6 separate regions of the Homo sapiens genome follow, and all the other regions are linked to region 1. The links come from fine-mapping of genetic effects on gene expression. A gene starts in region 1. Each other region holds a variant in brackets. All regions are shown on one strand. Distances are between the middles of the regions.

Region 1 (4,000 bases):
GAACTTCAAAAGTGAAAGGATGAAATTCTGAAGCAAAGTATCTTTAGGAGGGAGATGCCACTCAGTGCAGAGAAAGGCCCGGCTACTGCTGTCAGGACACGGACCCCTGGGCGCTGGAGAGCGTGCTCTGGAAAGCAGTCACTGCACACAAATAAGACATATGAGATGGAAAAGCAGCTGCCCAGGACTGTCGGCTGTCACCCCTGGGTGGGGAAATTATGGGTGGTGTCTGTTATCTTTTCAAGTATATCTTTATGTTAAAAAACCATTAATTTAATAAAATTGTTAAGTGAGATATTTTACATTATTTTTCTTTCACCAAGTCTTCTAAATCTGTGTATTTTACACTACCAGCACCTTCCAATTCCGACAGCCACGACTGCCCAGCCCTTGGGTGTGGCCCGTGGCCCCCACTGGTCAGCACAGGTGGGTCTGAAGGCACCTGTCAGGGTCTCTGCTGGTCGGAGCCAGCACACAGGGGCTGAGCGACACCGACGGCCCAAAACTGTCTGGTACTCGGTGTCGTCCCAGTCCTCACACACAACGTGAGCACGGCGGGACAGGTGTAACCCCCCAGGTGTGGCAGCTGAGGTTCAAGAATGGAAGTGACCCCCAAGCTTGGAGACAGTAGGGTTTCAACCCAGGTGTGTCTGGGGTCCTGCACGGTGACCCATGCCCCAGGCAGGCTCATTCCTGAGTCTCCAGGTGGCTCCCACAAGGAGTTAGGGAAGGAGGCCTCCAGGCTGGCTGTGACCCCTGACCCCGCACTTGCCCACCAGGAGACATTCCAGCCTTTCAGTTCTTCAGACCTTAGGGACACCTGACCTTCGCTCAGCATTCTCCAGAGGACAGAGACAGCCGTCAGGTAAGACTGGAGCCCAGCGGGGGGACCCGGCGGCCCGAGGTGGCGGGAGTGATTCCTAGGGCGACGCAGCTCTCAGGCAGGGCGGCAGGAGCAGCCTCTTCCTCCCTTTGGGGAGGCCACGCTGCGCGCCCACCTTTCCCAAGAGTAGAGGGCGGGAAAGGTCAGACGGGGGAGGCAGGGCCCGGTAGCACGCCGGCCACCCACCTGCCAGGGAGGACGCTGTCCCGGTCATGCAGCACAGTGGCAGCGCGTGTGGTGATCGGTGACCGCCGAGACCCCACGCCTGGACCCCGCGGCCACTCCCCGAGGGGCCTCCCCCTCCCCGCACGGGGATACCCCCCGTCCCCTCCCCCTCCTCCTCCCCGCGCGGGGCCTCCCCCCTTCCCCAAGGGGCCTCCCCTCACCTCTCCCCCCACCCCGCCCGCCCTTCCCCCACCTCGCTCCTCCCTCCATCCGCCCCTCCCCTCCCCGCCCCACCCCGGCCCTGCCCCGTCCCACCGCCCGCACTCACGTCGTCCATGAGCAGGAGCAGGATGTTGGGGGGCTGCGGGGCGCCCGAGGCCCCCATCCCCGCGGCGCTGAGCACCAGCAACAGCTGCCACCACCTCGTCGCCGCGACAACCGCCGCCATGGCAACCACGGGAGCCGCGGAGCCCCGGCCAGCGAGCCGACCTAGCGAGCGTCCGCCGGCCCTTCCGGCTGGGCTGCGGGGCGGGGCCTGGACGGCCACGTGACTCGCGGGGCGGGGCCAGAGTCCGCGGAGGGACGGGAGGCGGGGCCTGGACTGCCTCGTGACCAGTGGGGCGGGGCCTGAGCCAGCTGTGTGCGGATGGGGCGGGGCTTTGGAGGCCGCGTGACCAGCGGCGGGTCACGTGACGCGGTGCCTGGCGCCGAGCCTCCCAAGATGGCGGTGTGCATCGCGGTGATTGCCAAGGAGGTGCGTACGCGCGGCGTGGGGCGTCCGGGCTCGCACCATCCTCGGCTCTCCGCTTTCTTTCTACTTCTTCCCTGGGCTTAGAAGGCACCTTAGGAAATGGGACCTGGAGGAGGCCTTCGCCGAGCTCCAGCGGTCAGGGGCTTCGCGGTGGACGAGCCGCCAGGCAGACCCTGACTGAGACCCCAGTTCCGCGCTCGCCCGTCCCGCTGCTGAACGCACCCCTCGGCGCAGCAGGTCTCCTCCCCGCCAGGACCCACCAGAAACCTAGGTGGTCCCGGGCACTACCTCCGTCCTCCGTCCTCAGCAGGTTCTGCCCGTTCTCCCGTCCAGCGCTGGTTCCCCGCGGACGGCGGCCCCGGCCCTCCTGCCAGTCTCCCCGGAGCCGAGTTAAAAACAAATCGGATCCTGTCACGCCTCTGCCTGAGACCTCTGCAGTGGCTTCTCGTTGCCTTAGGATGCTGTCTGAATAACCTGCTCTGGGATCCTTTCCCCCCATAACCCTTGGCACTCTCCGCTCCAACCAAACAATTCTGCAGCTCCCTGGACATGCTCTGCCCTCTCACCTGTGGGCCTTTGCACGCGGAACACCTCTCCCCAGCTCCCATCCTCTTTACTGGCCCACATACATTTCAACTGGAAAGCATTTTCTGAAGGCTAAGACTGAGCTGGGTGGCTGCCCACACGCTCCTGCTGCACGGAGCCTTCATTTCCTAGCCAGGGTCTCCCGAGACCAGACTCGAGACCGCTCCCTGCTGGGCGGTGGCTGCTGCTAAGCTGCTCATGGGCTTCCCTCTTGGCCAAGATGATCATTTGCTTGTTTGTGGGTTTATTGACTAGGTATCACTCCCCACGAGGGTAGCGAGGACTCTTGTTCACTGTATTTGTGCAGGACCCAGTGCTGAACACACACAGGGTAAATGGTGGTGTGTGAAAGACCGAGAAAGAAGCTGTTAATTCTGGGCTTCCAATGGTCAGAAATGCAGAGATGAAGGGAATTTGAGCTGAGTCTTGAAGGGTTTAGTAAAAGGGTCACTGTCAAGGTGAAGAAAAGCCAGTATTGAGGGTGCTGTATTTGGGTGAGCCATGCAGAGTTAGAGGTGGGCTGAGGCAGAGTGGCCTCCAGGAGAAGGTGAGAGGCGTGCCCAGGTGCCAGGCTTGATCGGCAGGCTGTGCTCAGGCCCATTTTTCTGATTCATTTTTTCTTTTCCGCCCACCCTACTGCTGCTGCTTTGCAAACAACACATAAATCTCCTTAGGTTAGCTGGGATCCCCTGAAGGCAGTGCCCACTGCGGCATAGAGAATGAAGCGGTGGGCCTTAGAGCATGGGAATGCGTTCCCCGGGTGGCTGCAGGTCACGGCTCTGCAGCATAGTTCAGAGCTGGTGTGCGCTGGGTGGAGTCTTGTCCTTTCAGTCGCCGTCATCCTTTCTTGCAGAATTACCCCCTCTACATTCGCAGCACCCCTACGGAGAACGAGCTGAAGTTCCACTACATGGTGCACACATCTCTGGACGTGGTGGATGAGAAGATCTCCGCAATGGGGAAGGCCCTGGTCGACCAGAGGGAGCTGTACCTGGGCCTGCTCTACCCCACGGAGGACTACAAGGTGTATCTTTCAGGGCAGGGTGTGTGTCAGGGAGGACCTACAGTTGCAAGATGTACTTTAGGATCAGATAACTTGAAACCTTTTAGAAGAAAAAGAGGTGAGAGTTTTTAGCCAGCCAGGGAATTAGGGTAGCTTGAGGTGAATGAAGGCCTGTAACTCTTCTCTTTCATTGGAAGAGCCATTTGGGAAAAGCAAGGCTAGAATTCCCCGTAGAATGTTTTGGTTTGCACGTGTCCGTTGTCTGGTTTGCAGAGGAAGTGGGACACTTCTGCTTTGTACCTGCAAGGATTTCTTTCTGTGCTTTTCAGGGGGAGCCACCACCTTTGAGCAGGGGATAATAGTTTCATTTATTTCATTAGGCCTTGCCTCTTATGTCACTAGACACTCGTCTAGTCCCTTGGGACAAATCACTTGAGGCCATGGAATTCAAAGACCTTCCCAAAAGTCATCATGTAGCCTGTCCATGGTGACATTTGCTAGTAGCCACTATTTTACAAAATAATGTGGCCTCTAGAGAGGGGATCCGCCTTGTTCACGAAGCCTCTGGTTTTGCAGTTAACTTTCCGGGCCAGGCATTGATTCATGAAGAGGG
Region 2 (4,143 bases), 21 kb before region 1:
CTCAGGTCGCTGGGACCCTTGCCCCTGCTGGCTGGTGGTTGTGGGTGCTGGCGTCGAGGTGGGCCCCCCCGGGCTCCCCATGGGGAATGACGGCCAACACCACCCTCCCCCCACCCAGCACCCTGCCTCCTGGGAGCTGCCTGTAGCCCTCCACACATGGGTCTGTTGGGGGCCTCGACTCGTGGGTCTGACTCCAGTGGGCGGGAGATGGAGCTGTCCGGAGGGCCTGCACGAGAGCCAGGCTCACCCAGGGGAGCTATCTGGTGGGACGTGGCGCGAGGGAGCCTATGCTTCTGTTTTGGCTTTCAGCTGTGCTGGTTTCTATCACTTGAAACTCTGAAGCCCCCAATCCCCGCAGCACACTGGGCTGTAGGCGCCCCCCGACATGGTCTGGGACGAGGCTGTAGGGCTCTCCCCACCACGTGGTCTGGGAAGAGGCTGCAGGGCCCCCCCCCGCGTGGTCTGGGAAGAGGCTGCAGGGCCCCCCCGCGTGGTCTGGGAAGAGGCTGCAGGGCCCCCCTCAGCGTGGTCTGGGAAGAGGCTGTAGGGCCCCCCCCGTGTGGTCTGGGAAGAGGCTGCAGGGCCCCCCTCAGCGTGGTCTGGGAAGAGGCTGTAGGGCTCTCCCCACCGCGTGGTCTGGGAAGAGGCTGCAGGGCCCCCCTCAGCGTGGTCTGGGAAGAGGCTGTAGGGCCCCCCCCGTGTGGTCTGGGAAGAGGCTGCAGGGCCCCCCCCCGCGTGGTCTGGGAAGAGGCGGGTTCAGGTTTGTTGGCGCTGGGGATGGGTCAGGCATTCATCAGTGCCGAGCGGGGGAAAGGCTGAAGCTCCATCCCAGGAACCACTTGACAGGGCTGTGGTGGGGGCAGGAGTCCATCTTCATGGAGGCAGCCCGGCCCCTGGGTGACCAGGTCCAGGCCACACTCACAGGGCTGCTCGGGGTCTGGGGTGCCGGCCCCCACCTCAGCAGGGACACCCTGCTCCACCGGCCCTGCTGTTTCCATGCGGCCTCCAAAGCCTCCGGCCTCCGGGGTCACCCTTCGGGAGGCGTCAGCCTCTTCCAAGACAAACCCTCTCCCCTGTGTCACCTCCTCCCCACCCCCAAGTTCAAGGTCACTCCTGCTTCCAGGTTAGTCCTGGGCCAGAAGGGCCTTGCTCGAGGCTCGGTGACATCTGCTCCTCCCGCTGGACCCAGAGGGACCCTTCATGCTCTGCCCACCACAGACCCCGTGGGCACAGCCGGTCCAGGCACTCTTCGCTGACACGCTGGCTGTGGGGAAACCGTGAGAAGTGACAGCGAGCACTCACCTTGTTCGGGGGCGGAAATGAGGGCAGCGCCGTTGTCCGACGTGAAGAAGACGAAGGTGTTGTCCGCGACGTGCAGGTCTTGGAGGAGCTCCAGTATCTTCCCAATGCTGTCATCAATCTCCCGGACGGCGTCTCCATACCTGCAGGATGGTGACAAAAGGCATCTCCATACCTGGAGGATGGTGACAAATGGATCAGGCAGCCAACGGCATACTGTGATTCACGGAGTTCATTAAATCATAACTTCACAGACCACAGTGAAACTGGCCGGCCTCTTCCCAGAAGAGGAATGGCCTCAGTTCAAGTTCATGTGGCTTATGAAGGACAGAGCCAGCACCCCCACCACAGCCCTCCTCTGCTGATCCCAGGCCAGTGGACGGCTTCAAAGGGGTGGGGTTGCTCTGGCCTTTCCATAATTGGCCTAAATGCCACGGTACTGAGTGTCCCATCTCTGGAGTCAAGCACAGCTGGGGCCTCCAGCGAGGTCTATGCTCCATGGAGCCAGGACTCACCGCCCTCGCTGACTGGTGCCCAAGAAGGGTTTGGAGGCATAGACGGGTGCGTGCGTGGCGTCGACAGCCCAGTAGAGGAAAAAGGGGTGGTGCCGTGCCTGTCTCTTAATGAAGTCCAGGGCTTCCTATGGAGAGAGCCACACCGTCGTCCTCCAGCCTCAGGCCGACCTCCTCATGCCTCCCACGGTCCCCGTCCCCACACGTCCCACGGGGCGAGGTTGGTGCGGTCCCCGTCCCCACGCGTCCCACGGGGCAAGGTTGGTGCGGTCCCCGTCCCCACGCGTCCCACGGGGCGAGGATGGTGCGGTCCCCGTCCCCACGCGTCCCACGGGGCGAGGGTGATGAGGTCCCTGAACCCATGCCTCCCACGGGGTGAGGTTGATGCATTCCTGTCCCCACGCCTCCCACAGGATGAGGTTGGTGCGGTCCCCGTCCCCATGCGTCCCACAGGGCGAGGATGGTGCGGTCCCCATCACCTGCAGGTAGATCTGGGTGAGGTTGGCTTCCCCCGTCTTCAGATTAATAGGAAATTCTTCATAATATCTGAAAAGAACACAGATCCAGACAGACTTCAGAATTTAGGCCAAGAAAGTCCCGTTCTCCCTGATTTCACCAGCAAAGCCATGGGCTTCATTTAAAAGAAGGCT[A/G]GGGCTGGGCGTCATGGCTCATGCCTGTAATCCCAGCATTTTGGGAGGCTGAGGAAGGTGGATCATGAGGTCAGGAATTTGAGACCAGCCTGGGCAACATGGTGAAACTCTGTCTCTACTAAAAATACAAAAATTAGCTGGGCGTGGTGGCGCACGCCTGTAATCCCAGCTACTTGAGAGGCTGAGGCAGGAGAATTGCTTGAACCCAGGAGGCGGAGGTTGCAGTGAGCCGAGATCGCGCCACTGCAATCCACCCTGGGTGACAGAGCAAGATCCTGTCTCAAGAAAAAAAAAAAAAAGGAAGCCTGGAAATGAAATGTCCACTCAGGGAACAACCAAGCTGGACGCATCCCTCGCTCCCCCAGGGCACGGTCTTGCATCTGATGACCTGGCTGAGGCCGGTGCTGCAATAACCTGCCACATGGGAAGATGGGGGAATGGGGCTGAGGGCACGACACCAAGGTGAAGGCAGTGAGGCGGCTGTGGTCACTCGGCTGGGGCTGGGGAGCCGCCGCTCAGGCCATGGGGCTCGTTCTGAAGCAGCTACAGTGCTGGTTGTCCCAGCCTGTGACTAATGCCAACCACAGAACTGCACACTTCAAATGGGGGCTGCGTGGTGCGACTCCCACACCTCCACGGGGCTCTATCTAGAAAGAGGCAGCAAGCTGGTGCTGCTTCTGGTCACCGTCATGTAATGAATGAGCACTTCCGCCAAGAAGAGTCAAGTTAAGCAAAATAAAATTCACAAAAGATGAGGGTCCCGGACCCGGCACTGCCGTGTCAAGAGGTGCTGCCCCCACGCCCGGGCACCAGGACGGCTCTGTCTGGACAGCGGCTTTTGCTCCTGGTGTGGCTCCCAGTGGGGGTTTCATCCCACCTCCTGTCCTGCCCATGTCCCTGGATGTCTGGAGCACAGCCGGCCTCCCCACCCGTAGACCACATGGGCAGTACCCTGACAGCTAGGGCAGACCGTGTGGGCTCGCTCTGCTGGGGGCCTTCCTCTCTCAGGACAGCTACAGGGATCTACGACCCTGAAAAGGTGGGAAACCCCAGGCAGGAGTCTCATAGGCTCTGGGGCAAAACTTGGTGGGACAGAAGCCACCAAACCAAAGCCCTCGGTGCCCGGGGACCCAGGGACAGACCAGCCCTCATGAGTGGCGACTTGAGCCCACCAGTGCTAGAGGCGGGGGGCAGGCACGCCGGGCACAGCAGTTCAGGACGTGGGAGGGGAAGGGGTGGGGCTCCATTACCTGCCAACCATCTCCCAGTCCCTGTACACAGGGATGTTGGGCCTGGCCTTGTTGTCATAAGGTCCAAAGTGGCAGTTGGGGGATCCAAACCACTCATCAAATCCGTGCTTCAGGGGGTGGAACTGGGGCCTGTGACCCAGATGCCTGGAAACAGGAACCCAGGACACTTCAGGGACCCCACGTGGGGACACTCGGAAGTTCTGAGCAGCAACAGATACCACCTTCACAAAATTCTTGGTAAGACGAGCACCCTCCAGCACTGAGTATGGGCTATGCCTGGGCACGGCAGGGACAAAAGACCAAGGCCTCACCCGAGGAGGGTGCTGGCACTGCCCGCCTACCCTGCAGAGCGTCTGGGCACAACCGAGGGCGGCAGGCATGGCGGCGGCCGGGGTTCCCTGCACGGTGAAGGGTGGTGCATCGTGAGGAGCC
Region 3 (4,164 bases), 36 kb before region 1:
TGCCTCAGTCTCTTGAGTAGCTGGGACCATAGATCACTGTGCCTGGCTAATTTTAATTATTATTTTTTGAGAGAGAGTCTCGCGCTGTCACCTAGGCTGGAGTGCAATGGCATGATCTCAGCTCACTGCAACCTCCGCCTCCCTGGTTCAAGCGATTCTCCTGCCTCAGCCTCCTGAGTAGCTGGGAGTACAGGCGCCCGCCACCACGCCTGGCTAATTTTTATATTTTTAGTAGAGACGGGGTTTCACCATGTTGGTCAGGCTGGTCTCGAACTCCTGACCTCATGATCTGCCTGCCTCGGCCTCCCAAAGTGCTGGGATTACAGGTGTGAGCCACTGTGCCCGGCCTTAATTTTTTATTTTCTGTACCAGTAAGGTCTTGCTGTGTTGACCAGGCTGGTCTCAAACTCCTGGGGCTCAAGAGATCCTCCTACCTCGGCCTCCCAAAGTGCTGGGATCACAGGTGTGAGTGACCATGCCTGGCCCCGTCGTCTTTTTTTCTTTAGACGGAGTCTTGCTCTGTCACCCAGGCTGGAGTGCAGTGGTGCGATCTCAGCTCACTGCAACCTCCGCCTCCTGGGTTCAAGCAATTCTCCCGCCTCACCTTCTCGAGTAGCTGGGATTACAGGCACCGACCAACACATCCAGCTAATTTTTTGTATTTTGGTAGAGATGGGATTTCACCATGTAGGCCAGGCTGGTCTCAAACTCCTGACCTCAGGTGATCCACTCACCTCAGCCTCCCAAAGTGCTGGGATTACAGGCATGAACCATGGCGACCGGCCACCCGTCTTTAATTTAGAGAGGCTCCTGGCAAAGTGACATGTGTGTCTGTGTCTGAGAAGCAGCCCACGGTGAATCAGGCTGTGTCATGGGTGTGTGACCTCAGGGACAGTGGTTCTCAAAGGCATGGCCGACAGCTGGGCCTCCTTGTGACCCCCTCTGGGAAGCTCTGCCTGCTGCCTGGGTTTGCTTTGAAATAACCCTGCCTTCTCCAGCTGTGAGGGCGGGGCTGGGTGGCTGTGGTGGGTGGGACTGTGTCTCTGCTCTGGCCTGGCTGGAGGGGCTCCAGCAAACGCAACAGGCGGGGAGCAGTGGCCCTGAGGACCCCCCTGTGGATGCCAATCACGCCCAGTGGACGCGAGGGGGCACCGCCATCCAGGCTTTAACCTCGGGTGGTCCCTGGAGCGACCAGCCTGTGGGGGGTGTGGCGGGCACCGGTGTGGCCAGCAGCTTGTTCTGTGTAACTGGGGCCTGCAATCTGCTCCCCGTGGTCCCCCTGGGACGGCGCTTCCAGCTGGGGGGGCTGTTGGCTCCTCAGTGACTTCTGCGGGCACAGGGGGCTCCCAGACAGCCCCTCCAGCTCCACAAGGCCCCAAGCTCCAGGCCCCCCATGGTTTCACGGGTCTCACCCCCATGGGTGATCACGAGTCCCCCGGGGGCGTCTGTCTCTGTATCTCGGCACCCCCACAACATATGACCATGAACTGGGGCTTAAAACAATGAAACTGCAGATGCCCCTCACTTTTCCAGAGGCCAGAGGCTGAAACCAAGGGTCTCAGGGCTGTGCACCCCTGGAGGAACTGGGGCTCCTTCCTGCCTCTTCCAGCTCCAGTGGCCCCAGGTGAGCC[G/C]AGGCTGGTGGCGCTCTGTCCAGTCCCCGTCTCGTCCCGTGGCCTTCACCATGTCTGTGTCTCCTCCCTCTGGACTCAGGGCATTTGGCCTTGGACCCAGCGCCACCCGTGCCTTAATCACAAGGCACAGGCCCTACTTCCCTTCAGGCCAAGCTGGGAGGTGTGGGTGGACCTGGGCCTGGGGACACTGCTGTCCACTCCAGGCTCCATGCTGCCTTCCCGCAGTCACCATCCTGGGCTTCTGAGCTGGACGCTCGGTGGAGGAGAGGTGCTGCCGAGGAAGTGCCCAAGGGATCCCTGAGGGGCTGCAGCCCAGGAGCCTCACCGCAGGCTCAGCCCCGTGGGAAGGCGGCTGCCCCGTCCAGAGGGTGCAGGAGCCTCAGGGCACCTTGGCGGTGGTGCTGCCACCCTCGGTCCTGTACTGCTCTCTGCTGCCTCCCACCGGCCCTACTCAAACCCAGGCCCATCGGGGAGCATAGAAAGCCTGGGCAGGGAGCAACCGCTGTGCTCAGGCCTGGTTCTGCCTCTGCACGCCACTCCCCTGATGCTCCTGGGTCTTCCCAGGACCAACTCGATAGGGCAGGAATGCTGGAGACCACTAGGCATGCACGTGCCCCAGGACCCCCAGGCCAGGAGCAGGAATTGGGGACCTGCTCATCCTGCTGGGGTGAGGGGGGGAAGCCTCCAGGTAGCCCTAGCCCAGGGAGATGGGTTCGGACAAAAAAAAAGGAAGCCAGGGCGGGGTCTCCAGCCAAGTGTTGGGGCCTCTGTGTCGCCCCTAAGGAGCTGCCAGCAGGTGAGTCTGGTACTGGCGACCATGACCCTCAAGACTCCTGAGGGTAAGGGGAGGGCTTCCCTGAAAACTGGCAGGTGATGGCGCAGACTCCGGCATCCTCGGTGGGGTGAGGACAAGGCCCAGAGAGCAGAGGGTGGAGCTGGGGCTGGTGGCTTTCTGCCATTCCTCCTGCTAGCTGACCTGTGTCCTTGTACCTCCTACTTGCCCCAGGGCCTGGACCCCTCCCCTCTGGCCTCAGCCATCCCCAAATGCAGCTCAGAGTAGGGGATACATCACTGGGGGCCAGGTGGATGGTGGCCCAGAAGGGGCAGAAGTGGGGAGACCACCAGGGTGGGCAGCAGCAGGCACCCTGGGAGGAGGGCAGGCCACCAAGCACGTGTGGGTATGAATAGCAACAGCAGATGCAGGCAAGGGGAGGCGGCGGGCAGGGTGCAGAGGGCTCTGTCCCTGTGGAGCCTGCATTTGGGGGAGTCCGGCTGGCACTGCCTCAGCAGCCAGGAGGCCCTGCACCGACTCACCTGAGGGGGAACCTCTCCCCTGGGTCCCGTCCCAGGTGGAAGATCAGGGGCAGCTTCGTGTGGTCTTCCAGATTGTGAGTTGTGACCCCTGAAACGTTCTGCCCAGGGCAGAAATCAATGCCCTGCAATGAGAAGAGGGAAGGTGTGTCCTGGAGCCCCTGACCTGCGGCCGTGAGGGGCCTCGTCTGCCCGTGTCCTGGAGCCCCTGACTGCGGCCGTGAGGGGCCTTGTCTGCCTGTGTCCTGGAGCCCCTAACTGGGGGCCGTGGGGGGGTCTCGTCTGCCTGTGCCTAGCAGCGTCCCTGGTACTCAGCATGGTGCAGGGCGCTGGCTAAACGCTGAAGGACTAGCGGGCCCATAAGCATCCTGTGGAGGAGGTGAAGCCACCCGCTCTGGGCCCGAGATGCGTAGCTGGCATGCCTCACGTACCCTGTTTTCATGTACCCCTCTTCTTTGCGAGGCAGGTGAGTGTATTTAAAACACCTTAGCCAGCCTCAGATCTGGACTGCCACTAATTTCATGGAGGAAAGCCCCTTTTAACAGCCTACTCTCTGCTGGGGAAGGGAGGGGAGGGAAAGGGACGGGAAGGGAGGCCCTGCCCTGGGAGAAGGGAGAGCCACAACGCTCAGAATCCCTACAGAAACCCTAAGACAGGGAGGAGCAGGACCAACATGTGAAAGGCAAGAGAAAACACAGAAAACAAAAACAGACCCAGGGAGCTGACACAGATTCACACACTCAAGAAGGGCAAGGATTTTACAGTAACCACAATTCTCTTTCTGCTGCCCCTGGGCCTCCTGATTCGGGAAAGGCGAGGTATGCCTCTAACATTCCCAGAGCGGGTGCTGCAGGCCAAGGGGCTCGTCCGAGGACTGTGCCCAGGACGGCCCTCGCAGGCGGCAATGCCGGGGACCGATGCCCAGGACGGCCCTCGCAGGCGGCAATGCCGGGGACCGATGCCCAGGACGGCCCTCGCAGGCGGCAATGCCGGGGACCGATGCCCAGGACGGCCCTCGCAGGCGGCAATGCCGGGGACCGATGCCCAGGACGGCCCTCGCAGGCGGCAATGCCGGGGACCGATGCCCAGGACGGCCCTCGCAGGCGGCAATGCCGGGGACCGATGCCCAGGACGGCCCTCGCAGGCGGCAATGCCCGGGGAACGATGCCCAGGACGGCCCTCGCAGGCGGCAATGCCCGGGGACCGATGCCCAGGACGGCCC
Region 4 (4,000 bases), 23 kb after region 1:
CCTGGGGCCCTCACAGCTCTCCTGGATCCTCCTGTTCTCACAGGCTAGAGAACACGGGTTTCAGGCCAGGCACAGCGGCTCGCTTCTGTCATCCCAGCACTTTGGGATGCCGAGGCGGGTGGATCACCTGAGGTCAGGAGTTCGAGACCAGCCTGGCCTACGTGGCAAAACCCCATCTCTACTAAAAATACAAAAATTAGCCAGGTGTGGTGGCGGGCGCCTGTAATCCCAGCTACTTGGGAGGCTGAGGCAGGAGAACCGCTTGAACCCGGGAGGCGGAGGTTGTAATGAGCCGAGGTCATGCCACAGCAACAAGATCACTTCAGTCTGGGCAACAAGAGTGAAACTCCATCTCAGCATCAGCCAACCTGGGCTCGAGTCCTGGCCCCACCGCTTCCCAAGGCCGTGACCTCAGACAAGCTGCCAACCCTCTCGAGCCCTCAGTTTCTGGAACTACAGAACGGGGACATCCATAGGACGCCTCACTGAACCATGTGGGATCTCTGTGCTGATAAAGCACAGTGTGGGCGGGGATGGCGTGCCTGCTGCAGGATGCCCGTGACAACTGTGCTGATGCCACGTGGAGGCTCAGAATCCTCATGGGGGTGGCGTGGGACCGCACGGGAGCCGAGGCAGGGGATGGGTGTCAGCGTGGCCGGGTGGCCCTACCTCGCTGGAGTCCTCCTGCTGGTTGATGACCGTCAGGGCGTCCTCGGAGGCCTGCCGCTTCGCCTCGGCCAGGGCCCGCTCCATCTTGGCACGCTCCGTGGTGATGAGCTCGTGCGCTTTGCGCTCCGCGTCCGACACGGCTTTCTGCAGCTCCGACATGGCCTGCCGCTTCACCTCATTCACGGCCTCTTCTGCAAAGGACATGGGCAGGGCTGGCGGTCACATGGGCCATCCCAGATGGGTCTCTGGACTTCCTACGCGTGGCCACAACCTGGGGACAGGGGCTGTGTGCAGCTGAACACACGTACCATCTGTGCACACAAAGGCACATGTTGATGGGGCTGTAGGCAGCTGAACACACGTAGCATCTGTGCACACACAGACACACGTTGATGGCCCTCATGCCTGTGCAGACAAGTGCATGCAAATAAACACAGGCATCCCAGGCATGTGTGTGCAAAGCTGGGTCACGTGGTGTCACAAGTCAAAGCTTGCACTCTACCGCAGCGGCTCCCCAGGCACTGCACCCCTGCAGGGCAAGGGCGAGGCCCACCCCAGGGCCTGGTCAGCCAGGGGCGCACCCGGAATCTGCATTCCTAACGCGAGCCGGGGGAGCTGCTGCTGACCTGAAGCACTTGGATAACTCTGCCGTTCCGCCTTCACCTCTGGCCCCACCCAGACGCAGCCCAGGAAGCCCCCTCGTCCAGGGCTCTGTGCTGTCACCCCAGACCCTGCTGTTATCCTCACCGCACTTGCCATCCTTTAACCTGGCTGGCCTCTGAAGACCATGCTCCCCGACCCACACACAGCCACACACAGATCCTGATCTGTGCTAAGATGGGGTAGGCTCAGAGCAGCCTCCAGGGAGCACTGCCCACGCAGCTGGGGAGGCCATGTTTCAACTCCACCACTGAAAGAGACCCTGAGGCCAGCTGGAGACCCCGGTACCGCTGCCCAACCCTAACCCTAACCCTAACCCCAACCCTAACCCCTCTTGCTGCCCACATATCTGGCTCTGCCCCAGCCCCTCCCCCAAGGCTGATTCCCACGGCATGAGCAAATGTCCCCACAGCCTTGCCCAGCGCTCAGCTCCACGTCTGCCCCTGTTCTGACCCCATTCTGCCCGGACTCTGGCCCCGCGTGCCTGACGCGCCCAGGCTCCGAGTGTGTGCGCTTCTGCGTGCCCTCCTGGGTGTGCAGGTCCAGGACCCACTTTATTCTGCTGGGCGGCCACCGGTCCGTTTCCTGGTAGGCGCAGGTAGCAGCTGTCCTGCCCT[A/G]AGTGTGAACCTACTCTGACCTCTCCGTGAGCCACACAGCGGAATGCAGAAAGCCTTGTAGCCTGAGCCCCCAGAGAGAGACAGAAGCTCTTCAAAGCTGAGCCGGTGAGAGGCGCATCTGGGGCCCTGGCCTCCCACAGCTCTGCTGGCCAGGCCCCTGCACCCCCACTCACCAGCCTTCCTCCAGATGTCCTCAGGCACGTAGCCGGTGAGGGTCCTCGGCAGGAACTCGCGAGGCACGTCTGAAACAGGGGCCGGCGTCACACAGGATGGGCCACGCGGCTGCCCCTCCCACGCTGGGGCCCTCCCCACCCTGGCTGGGCCCTGAGTGCAGGGCGTGAGTGTGTGCGTCCCTGGGGGGAGGCCCAGGTGCCCTCGGACAAGGTCTGGCTCAGGCACCCAGGGCAGTGCCCGGGCACGGGGGGCATTGGAGCTGTGGACCTTGGACTCGGCTGGGAGCCGTGTGTGTCCTGGGCCTCTCCTGTGTCAGCATTCGTCGCTGAGGCGGAGAAGCAGAGACCCTCAGGGCCTCCCAGCTCCGAGCCTCTGGCCCACCAGACGCTCTGAGCTCCAGGCTTCCTGGCAGACCAGCCCGTGTTTTCCTACAAAGTGAAAAAGGTGCCTCTTTCTCAAGCGAAACTGTTCTGCCTGGTGTTTCGTTGCATTGCCTGCCTGACAGCTCCCAGGTGTCCGCCCCACCAGAGCACCCCGTGTCTGCTCCCTCCCCCCACACCCCACACGCACCTAGCTGAGGCCCTTCGGGACCGGCGGAGCTGCTGCGGGGCCGGGCCGCGGCGGGAGCGGGGCCCTTCTTTGTGTCCTCGGCGTCGCTGTAGCGCCGCGCCCAGTGGTTGAGCTCCTCGCGGTCGGCCTCCTGGCACCTGCGCAGCACCGTGAGCGAGCGCCGCGTCTTCTCCACCATGTCCATGATGCAGTTCAGGAGCTGGGGGCGGGCGGCGCAGCCTTCAGCACCTCAGAGGGACCGGGACGCACCAGACACTCCCCCAGCCCACTCGGCCAGAGCCCCGGACAGGATGGGTGCCCGACCAGCCCACCGCCCGTGAGAGTAAGGGGGTGAGGGAGGGCCCACCTCCATGGCTTGCAAAGATGGGTCCCTAGCCTGGGACTGCCGAGCGCCTGGGGGTACCAGACTCACATGGACACGTGCCTAGACGCACGCAGGAGTTTGGGATTCTCCTTTTTAACCCGCTCAGCGGGGCTCTGCCTCAGGGACCTGGCTTTCCGCCTGGGCTCCCCTTCCAAAAAGCATGAGGGCGAGGGGCGAGGCTGACAACAGTGCTGGGAGGGGTGCTGGCCCCATGCCTGGCGACCCCTCCTGGGACGTGCTGCAGGATGGGGTGGGTGGGTTCTGAGGAGCCCAGTTCCGGGCCGTCCCCGAACACGTCCTGCCTCAAAGAGGCCTCGGCACTGCTTTTGCCCACACTTCTTGCAAGACTCAGGATAGACTCTGGGAAGAGCCAGTGAGCAGAAAGTAAGTGGAGGGAAGCAAGGCCCGCCATGAGGGTTTTAGGAATCCTCCTCCCTGGGCCTCTCGAGATGCCTGGGCTGCGCTGACAGCTGGGAGGAGGGGGGCTCAGGTGAAGGACCCAGCCGCTGCGCAGGGACGGCGCAGGCCACACAGGAGGGCACTGAGCTCAGGGGCGCCCACACAGCCCTGCTGTCTCCAGCAGCCCCAGGCCCCATGGGGCAGAGCCATGGCCGTGTTTATGCATAGGCATACAGGTGTGGCTGTGTGGGGACATGGCTGTGTGGGTGTAGCTGTGTGTGGGCATGGCTGTGCGTGGGTGTGGCTGTGTACATGGGGGGGTTGTGTGCATGGGTATGGCTGTGTGTGTGGGTGTGGCTGTGTGTGTATGGCTGTGTGTGGGTGTGGCTGTGTGCGTGGGCGTGGCTGTGTGCGTGGGGGTGGCTGTGTGTGACTGCACGGGCGTGGCTGTGGCTGTGTGGGCGTGGCTTGTGTGGGCATGGCTGTGTGCATGGGTGTGGCTGTGTGTGGGCATGGCTGTGGGCGTGGCTGTGTGTGCATGGCTGTG
Region 5 (4,000 bases), 42 kb after region 1:
CAGTCAGCCCCATTGGCCATGTTTTGCTGCTGGGGAAGGAGAGCTCAGAGAGGCTCTGCTCCTGCCTAAGGCCCCGCAGCTTGGAGCGGAGGGTCTGTGGGATGCAGCGACCCGGCGGCTCTGCCCTCCTGCGCCCTCTTCTCCCTAAGGAGGCAAGACCAACACAACAGAGGCAATGCTGAGGGTGCGGAGGCCGGGGAGGAGAGCTGAGCGCCCCCAGGGCAGCAGTGTTGGGCCAGCTGAGGATGCTGCGGTGAAGACCTCTGGGGAGGCCTGCGGTTTTTGTTATTTTACTTACAGAGACAGACCATAGACCATTTTAAGCAGCCATGAAAACGGCCGTGGGGCAGCGTCGCAGGCCCGTCCTCTCGATCTGTAAGCAAAATAAGAAGAACACGCTGTCAGGAGGGGCGTGGGCAGGAGACTCTGCCCTCAGGGGCGCCCGCGGCCACCTTTTCCTACTTCTCAGAGTGATTTTTGGTGGGGGCGTGGGCAGGAGACTGCCCTCAGGGGCACCCGGGCCGCCTTTTCTTGCTTCTCAGAGTGATTTTTGATTTTCGGAGGGGCCTGGGCAGGAGACTCTGCCCTCAGGGACGCCCGGGCCGCCGTTTCCTGCTTCTCAGAGTGATTTTCTGACGGGGCTCTGTCACCACCTGGGGCCAGGCCACTCCCCTCTCCGAGCCTCAGTTTCCTTCTCTGAGAGTGGGTGATCCCTAAGGGCCGTTCTGGCAGCACTGTTCCGGAGTTTACAAGAACCGCGGCTTCTCTATGAGCAGGGGCGGGGCCCCTTGTTTTCATCGTCCTCTTCCCAGAAGGCCCCTGTGACCCCATGAGCACCATCCTCAGGGACCTGGGCCGAAGCCGCGTGTCCTAAAAGCGACCTGAGACTCGGCTTGGAGTCTCTGAAACAAAGCCCTGGGTCGGCACTGGAGGAGGAAGCACCAAACAGGAAGAAAGATTCGGCTGGGCTCAGTGGCTCACGCCTGTAATCCCAGCACTTTGGGAGGCTGAGGCGGGAGGATTGCTTGAGCCCAGGAGTTCAAGACCAGCCTGGGCGACGTAGGGAGACCCAAACTCTACTATATAAAAAAAGAAAGAAAGATTGAATTTGTTCGAGCTGAAGTCAGTGGCGCAGGCCACAGGAAGACAGGCTCTAGTAAAGACGGGTAGTGAGTTCTCTGTCATGGGGGTAATCAAGGGCAGGATAAAGCCTTAGCCCTTTAAGCGTCCTCCCAGCTTTAGAGGAGCTTGGTCTGGGTCCCTGCTCCTTATATGCCTTCCCCCTCCCCACCCCCCACCCCACAGCAGCACCGCAGCTTCAACTCCAAGATGAATTTGCGCCCAGGGCTGTCACTGGGCAAGAGAAACTTCGGCCCTCAAGTCTCCGTTCAGACTCAGTCTCCCATCAGCTTGGCTCAGAGGCCAGTCCCCGGGGAGGAGCCTCCCGGCAGGGCTCTGCAACTGAGCTGTGGCCCCTGAAGGGCACCCACCACCCACCAGCCAGGGGCAGGGGTGCGGCCAACCACCTGGCTTTCACGGAATTGTGTGGATTAGGGGATAAATCTGAGGCTACCTCAGGGGTGGCCAGAGCCTCAGACTGATGCTGCTGACAGCCCAGTGGGACTGAAGCATCGGCTTAGAAAAGAAAAAGCACCTGCTTATCTCTTTCATAACCTTCACGCTCCTTAAACCAGCTGGGACCTCACCCCAAAAACATGACCCCAAGGCGGGCTGGGAGTGGAGGGAGCAGGAAGGACCCCAGCCCCAGGCATGCCGGCTGC[C/G]CTCACATCCGTTCACAGGTCTCCAGAAGCAGAGCCCGACGCTCTGCTGATCCCAACCCACCTCCAGCCAGGAGCATCAGACCGGCACCTTCCAAGCAGAGGCTGCTGGTCCCCAGGGAAGAGCAGGTGGGGGAGACGCACCCTTGAGGGTCTGGGGAACCAGGCTCAGCCCACGGTGTTTGTCCCTGACAGTGGGGCCTGAGGTTGTCTGTGGAGCGGGTGTTTTAGGCACTGCGCCCATGGCCGGGTCTCCCGTGGTCCGTCCTGAGCGTTTCCTCCCCCGGGGCTGGGGTATACTGCAAATTTAACACAGCAGCGGTCTCCCTCTACCTATGTGGGCTCGGTGTGGTCGCAAGCTGCCTGGTAGAGAGACGGCCCGTGGTTTGTACCAGACCGGAGGGCTCTTCCGAAGAGAGGGAAGGGTGATCCCAGCCCGGCCACATCGCCGTGTGACAAGGACATGTGAGAAAAAGCCCAGCCAGCCTCTCACTAGAAACCGTGGCCAGCTCCGCAGAGCCAGGACCTGCACGCTGGGCCCGCCGTCCCCCAGGACCTGCAAAATCGTGAGTGCGGCGTCCCGACTCTCTGAGGCAGGGCCGGCCCCGCGGGTGCAGGGAGTAGCCGTTAGGCTGTTTGGCTCCTACTGAGTGCCGGGCACATTTCCAGCTGTACCTGCCTCTGGGCGGCACACCTGGGGGCACCCCATTGCTGGGCCACCCCATTCCCCAACCAAGTCGGGAGGCTGACTCGGAGCCAACATCCTACAAACAGGGCCGCAAATCTGCTGCCTGACCGCACAGCCAGTGCTCTCTCCAGATGGAGGGGAGATGATGGCCAAAGCCCTCGGCGGAGCAGGCCCCCAGCCTCAGCGGCAGAGCCAGGGAGGGAGCCAGGCCTGGCCTATAGCCACCCGGTGCTCTGAGGACAGTCGTGACGTAAAGGGACTGAGGAAGCAGCTCTTTCTGGCCCGTCAGGGACCCGGGGCAAGCAGGACGGAAGTCTCAGGCTCCCCGCCCAGAGAGGGGCTTCGTTTGAGTTTCAGAGCCTGGGGAGGGTCCCCCAGGTACGGGGCTTTCTGGCCGCTGCATGTGGAGGTGGTACATGGAGTCTCCCCCCTGCAGACACTGAGATGCACTCCTGAGCCCCCAGCCTTGAGGGACAGGGACGCTGCCACCCCGCCGGCCCAGCAACTGGGCCAAAGAGCACCAATGTCTGTCCTCAAAGCCAAGGCTCTGCGGGTGACTGTGATGAGAACTGGCTGTTCCCTGCCCCACAGCCTCCCAGGGCCCACCATCGGCGGCTCTGTGCGCCAAGCACGGCCAACCCCTTGCCAGGGCCAGCAAGACAAGGCCTGACAGCTTCTTGAGGTCCCACCCTTCCGGCCTCCTGTGCCAAGGCCCCCACCCTGGCCCCCGTGCTCAGCCGGGCTGTGGAGCTCCTGAGATCTGAGCCCCTCCAAGGCCAGAGCTGCCTCTGTGGTCCCTCCACGGGGCCTGTACGCAGGTGACCTGCTGTATGACCCTGCGGAAGCCCCTGACCCCATCCGAGTTCCACGTTCTCTCTGGATGAGCCTGGCATTCCTAGGCCTGCCGGACGAGGCAGGAAGCCTGAGGCACAGCGGCCGGCTTTGACCCATGGCCGGCCCTGGTGAAAGGCCTGTGTGGACTCACCTGGCCCCACCACAGCCCTGGGAGGACCTGCATTGCAGAAGAGGAAGCCCAGGCCCCCCGGAGGGCAAGGACATGACCCGGAGCTACCCAGTGGGAAGCAGGGAAGCTGGGATTTGAACCGGCCAAGCCTGGGCTCTGGGCCACACGAGCTCCTCACACTCAGGGCTCACAGAAGGTGCCCGCTGGCTCCGGGCAGGAAGCTCAGAATTTCAAACAACACAAGGGCCTCCCCTGAAACACCTGGCCCTCGGCTGCCAGGTGGGGGCTACTTACGTGTGTGTGGCGTGAAGGAGGGGGGGCGTGTGGCCCCCTGGGATGCGGCAGGCGGTGGGGGCGGCATGCTGGGGGGTGTGGACCGGGGCTGCGTCTTCACCTCCGCTGGGGAGTCCGGCATCGCTGAGGCCTTAGCTTTCCTGTCCACTGGGGCTGCGACCAACGGAGAAAGAAAGAGTCGGTGAAGCAGGCTAAGTGCAAAGGCCAGGGCCCGCAGCCCCACGGTTCCCAGCGAAGGCCCCACTGAGTGTCCGCCCAGCGCTGGGGCAGTCTGCC
Region 6 (4,148 bases), 41 kb before region 1:
CCTTGTGGACAAAGGACAGACGGAACTGGAAGTCATCCCTCTGGGGCTCCCCTGAGACAAACGCTTATATGATTGCCCCGTTCCCTTACTGTTTACATAAAAATGCGGATTCACTGGGCCAGACTCAATCGTGTATTCAGTGGAAGGCTGACTGAACCAATGTACGCCATACACATACTGATCTTGTGTCTCCCTAAGATGTATAAAGGCAAACTGTATCCCCAGCCACCTCAGGCACCTGTTGTCAGGACCTCCTGAGGCTGTCACAGGTGCATCCTTAACCTTGGCAAAATAAACTGAGACTGGTCTCAGATATTTGGGGTTCACAAAGGCGTGAGACGGCAGGGTCCTGAGGTCTGAGGCGCCGTGGGCGAGGAGGAGGGTCCTGAAATCTGAGGCGCCGTGGGCGAGGAGGAGGGCCAAGCACACGCCAGGGTCAGGTCCTGGGCAGGTGGAATTGTGCAGTCCCCCTGCGTCTGCAGGTGCTGTCTGTCTGGCTTGGGCAGGGTTGGGGGAGGACCGAGGCCAGAGCCATCCTTCCTCCAGGCACTTGCAGGGCCAACCGGAGATTCTAGGCCTGGCCTGAGTCTGCGCAGGTGCTAGTGGGACCAGAGGCACTTCTTGGGAATGGATTCTGGAGGTGTCAGACACTTCCCTAACTTTTCACAGCCCGGAGGTGCCCAGTTCTGGGAAATGAAAATTGAGAAAAAGAACATGCAGTTATTCAAGCTCTTCTGGACCCAGCAGCAGCGGGCATTTTGTTGTTGCTGTTCTGAGACAGTCTCACTCTGTCACCCAGGCTGGAGTTCAGTGGCGCGATCTTGGCTCACTGCAACCTCTGCCTTCCGGGTTCAAGAGATTCTCCTGCCTCAGCCTCCTGAGTGAGTAGCTGCTGGGATTACAGGCACGCGCCACCACGCCTGGCTAATTTTTGTATTTTTAGTAGAGACGGAGTTTCACCATCTTGACCAGGCTGGTCTTGAACTCCTGACCTCGTGATCCACCTGCCTTGGCCTCCCAAGGTGCTGGGATTACAGGTGTGAGCCACCACGCCCAACCATTTTTGTATTTTTGGTAGAGACAAGGGTTCCCCAAGTTGGCCAGGCTGGTCTCAAACTTCTGACCTCAGGTGATCCACCTGCCTTGGCCTCCCAAAGTGCTGGGATTATAGGCGTGAGCCACCGCGCTTGGCCTCGAGCAGTTTTGATGTGTCCCCTGCCCAGGTCAACCCCGGACCCCAACCAATTGGCCTCAGTGTGGGGACCACCTCGGTCCAGGTGGGCAGCTACACAGACGCTCCCCAGGAATCATGGGAACTTGGGAGATGGCACCCTCTTGACTCGGCCTCTCAGCTCTGAAGGCTGCCATTGGAGAAATGAGAACTTGGTGGGGAGGTCCCGGGTATGGGGGATGCAGCTGCCAAGTGGCTGAGGGCCTCCGAGGGCCAGCAGTGTTAGAAAGGGCAGGCGGTCCTCCCAGGAGGGCCCACCCTGAGCTTCTCAACTCATCACCCTCTCCTGCAGCTTCAGCCTCTCAAGAAGCCTTTCCCAGGGAGAAGCCAGTCCCTACTGCGCTGCTGGGCTCAGTTCAGTGCGGTGCTGAGCGGAGCCCGCACCCCTCCATCGCCTGGGTGTGTGTGGACCTCACAGTGCAGCCTTGCTTAGCGGAAGCCTTGCTTGATGGGAGGGCACTTTTCCTGGCAACAGAAAGGGAGACTTATGCCGCTAAGAGGAGCCTTCTTGGCTGAAATGAGTGCAGTTTGGTTCTGTGTCCCCATCCAGGCCACTTCTGTGCCACGTCAGACGCCGCATGGCCCTGAGGGCACTTTCCGGGGACAGACTTTGGATTCTGGGTGCTGCTCAGGGTACTAAGGACAGTCTCCAGCCCTAGGCGGCAGCAGGGATGCCGCATGAGTGTCCCTGCCCCCTTGGCCACCAGAGCAGGAGTGGGTTTGGGTGAGGAAGCTGCTCCCAAACTCCAGGGGCAGCAGAGGCAGCCGCAGGGTGTGT[T/G]TGAGTCTGGATGGGGGATCTGCATTTCTCAAAGGCCGCTCAGCTGTCCCAGAAGCAGGGGTCCAGGTGGCCACACTCCCTCTCCTCTGTGCCAGAGACGCCACTGAGCCCCTCTCCTGGGGCTGGCCTGGAGTTGGCGGGGACAGAGGGCAGGGAAGGGGTAAGGAGGGCCCCCAGGCTTCACACGCGTGTCTGTGCATCTCCCCCATGGCTCTGCTCACGGTGGCATCTGGGCCCCTCAGACCCCAGTGGCTCAGCTCGCCAGGTCTGAGTTGGCACTTTTCCCCCTGCAGAGAGCACAGGTGTGGCGGTGGGGGCAGTTCCCCCAGTGCCCAGGAGATGGCAGTGGCAGCCAGGCTGTGTGCGCCCACCTCCCCTGCCCTGTGCCCACTGTCTCCATGGCAGGTGTGGCCTGCGCCCGTGGAGCCACTGCAGCCTGGGTCGTAGAGAAGGACCCAGCAGCACGGAGTGGGATTGGGTGTGGAAGGCAGAAGGCCAGGGCTCCTCCACGGCTGGTGGCCCTGGGCTCCTGGGGCCCCGAGACTCAGGGGTCCTGAGACAGGGACCTCCCTGCTCCACCACTGAGTCCAGAGGCGGGGACGCCAGCTGCCCAGGTCCCTTTGAAGGAAGGGCCCTGAATATCTTCCTATGAAACTTGCCAGGCACCCCCGCCCCCCGCCCCCCAACTAACGGAGGTGGCCCTGCCCTGCCCAGTCCTAAATAACCCTGCAGGGTGGACTGTCCCTGGGCAGGGACAAGGCCATCTGCCCTCCATGGTCCTCACTGCTGGTAGGTGCTCCCGATGGCCGGTGCTCTCCTGTTACATCCGCCGGCCCACGCTGTGGCTCCCTGGCTGTTCAGAGCCACCACCTTCCTTCCCACGGCACGGCGGGCACCCAGCGGCTCCCACGCTGCAGCCGGGTCTGGCCCTGGAAAGAGGCTTCAGCTGGGCCTTTTCGCCCGCACAGCAGGAGCCCAGGCTGAAGTCTGCAGCTGCCGAGGGGCCTTCTTCCCGAATCCTGCGCGGCAGATCCAGGGGCTGTGGGCAGCCACGCCCAGCCCGTGTAAACAGGTGAGCGACGGCCCAGGGGCCTCGAGGCTGGGCTCGGCCATCTCCACTGTGCTCGGTGGGCTCTGGGCACCCAGGAGCGACACCGCAGACCTGTGTGTGGCTCGTTTTTGCCGACTAGAGCGAGGGCCGCACGTGTCCCATCTGAAGGAGCTGTGAAGACCTGCCCTGCTGGGACCCACATCAGCTGTGCTGGGAAACAGGCCTTTGCGGCCACTGCACACGCGGGATGGCTGGGCCGTCCACATGCCACCCTATGGGACCCCCAAGCAGGGGACAGAAAAGCTGCTCCTGAGAGGCCCTGACTGCTGCGGCCCCCAGGGCTGGACAAGACGACGACGCATCCTTTGTGGCCTGAACACAGACTTCAGTGAAACTTTGGAGGCACGTCTGTGCTTGTGTTTCTGGCCGATGCTGGCGTGATGAGGCCGTTTCTCTACTGGAGGTGAACAAGGCCTGGTCTTGTCAGGCTGCACGGAGGTGCTGCTCTGGGTGGGTGCCTATGAGTGAGATCAGGTCTGATGCGAAGGTCTCTGGGGCTGGCCCAGCATGAAGGAGGCACAAATGAGAACCTCGCAGGTGGGCCCTGGGGCCGCCGCCACTCAACAGTGCCCACCAGCCCACCCGGGACCCACCGGGCAGTGCCGTTCCTGCCTCGGTGCCTTCAGAGCCCGGGAGTTTGGAGGTCATCACAGGGCCCCTGCAAGGAGAAGCTGCCCGTGTGGGAGTCGAGGACCAGGGGACCCCGGACCCTCTCACGCGCCCTGCTGTCCCTCAGTGACTTGTGGGGGGCAGGAGAGGGGCCTTGGAGCTCCCCAGTCTCAGCTCAGCCAGGCAGAGGCCCGGGTGGCCGGCTGTGGACCTGCGGCTGCCCTGGTGCAGCGTTGTTCTGGTCCCCGAGTCGCTTGGCTCCTGCCTCCCGAATCCCGGACGCCGCCGCGTGTGCTCTGAGGCACGAGGGCCTCACCACTGACGGAGGCGGGGAAGCACGCCTGCCTCTGCCCTGTGCTGGCCACGGTTCATCCTGGGCCCCGGGTGGGTGGCTGCAGCCCCGGCAAAGAGACGGCCGC

The links.
Region 2: its variant is fine-mapped to the expression of GALNS in whole blood (INTERVAL, PIP above 0.99).
Region 3: its variant is fine-mapped to the expression of GALNS in whole blood (TOPMed, PIP above 0.99).
Region 4: its variant is fine-mapped to the expression of GALNS in whole blood (INTERVAL, PIP above 0.99).
Region 5: its variant is fine-mapped to the expression of GALNS in monocytes after Pam3CSK4 (Quach 2016, PIP 0.95).
Region 6: its variant is fine-mapped to the expression of GALNS in whole blood (TOPMed, PIP above 0.99).

Annotation. Positions count from the first base shown.
Region 1 is chr16:88,855,382-88,859,381 of GRCh38, forward strand. It overlaps GALNS (galactosamine (N-acetyl)-6-sulfatase), which reads right to left and starts at 1,566. Exons shown (of 14, transcript NM_000512.5): 1 at 1,377-1,566. The coding sequence starts at 1,496. It overlaps TRAPPC2L (trafficking protein particle complex subunit 2L), which reads left to right and starts at 1,746. Exons shown (of 5, transcript NM_001318525.2): 1 at 1,746-1,802; 2 at 3,238-3,410. The coding sequence starts at 1,770. It overlaps LOC107983950 (a long non-coding RNA gene), which reads right to left and starts at 1,199. Exons shown (of 2, transcript XR_933884.3): 1 at 1,070-1,199; 2 at 1-920. RefSeq lists a silencer at 1,299-1,698.
Region 2 is chr16:88,833,911-88,838,053 of GRCh38, forward strand. It overlaps GALNS (galactosamine (N-acetyl)-6-sulfatase), which reads right to left. Exons shown (of 14, transcript NM_000512.5): 5 at 3,712-3,855; 6 at 2,291-2,357; 7 at 1,815-1,939; 8 at 1,303-1,442. Among named protein-coding and RNA genes, the nearest start is that of GALNS, 21 kb to the right of the region's middle. The variant A/G (reference allele first, on the strand shown) is at 2,462.
Region 3 is chr16:88,819,644-88,823,807 of GRCh38, forward strand. GALNS (galactosamine (N-acetyl)-6-sulfatase) reads right to left here. Exons shown (of 14, transcript NM_000512.5): 12 at 2,946-3,067. Among named protein-coding and RNA genes, the nearest start is that of APRT, 9.8 kb to the left of the region's middle. The variant G/C (reference allele first, on the strand shown) is at 1,632.
Region 4 is chr16:88,878,601-88,882,600 of GRCh38, forward strand. It overlaps CBFA2T3 (CBFA2/RUNX1 partner transcriptional co-repressor 3), which reads right to left. Exons shown (of 12, transcript NM_005187.6): 9 at 2,691-2,889; 10 at 2,120-2,188; 11 at 670-860. Among named protein-coding and RNA genes, the nearest start is that of PABPN1L, 14 kb to the left of the region's middle. The variant A/G (reference allele first, on the strand shown) is at 1,947.
Region 5 is chr16:88,897,780-88,901,779 of GRCh38, forward strand. CBFA2T3 (CBFA2/RUNX1 partner transcriptional co-repressor 3) reads right to left here. Exons shown (of 12, transcript NM_005187.6): 2 at 3,725-3,877; 3 at 299-373. Among named protein-coding and RNA genes, the nearest start is that of PABPN1L, 33 kb to the left of the region's middle. The variant C/G (reference allele first, on the strand shown) is at 1,782.
Region 6 is chr16:88,813,840-88,817,987 of GRCh38, forward strand. GALNS (galactosamine (N-acetyl)-6-sulfatase) reads right to left here. Exons shown (of 14, transcript NM_000512.5): 14 at 1-686. The coding sequence ends at 600. Among named protein-coding and RNA genes, the nearest start is that of APRT, 4.0 kb to the left of the region's middle. RefSeq lists a silencer at 2,318-2,427 and enhancers at 2,350-2,851, 2,852-3,351, 3,946-4,148. The variant T/G (reference allele first, on the strand shown) is at 2,010.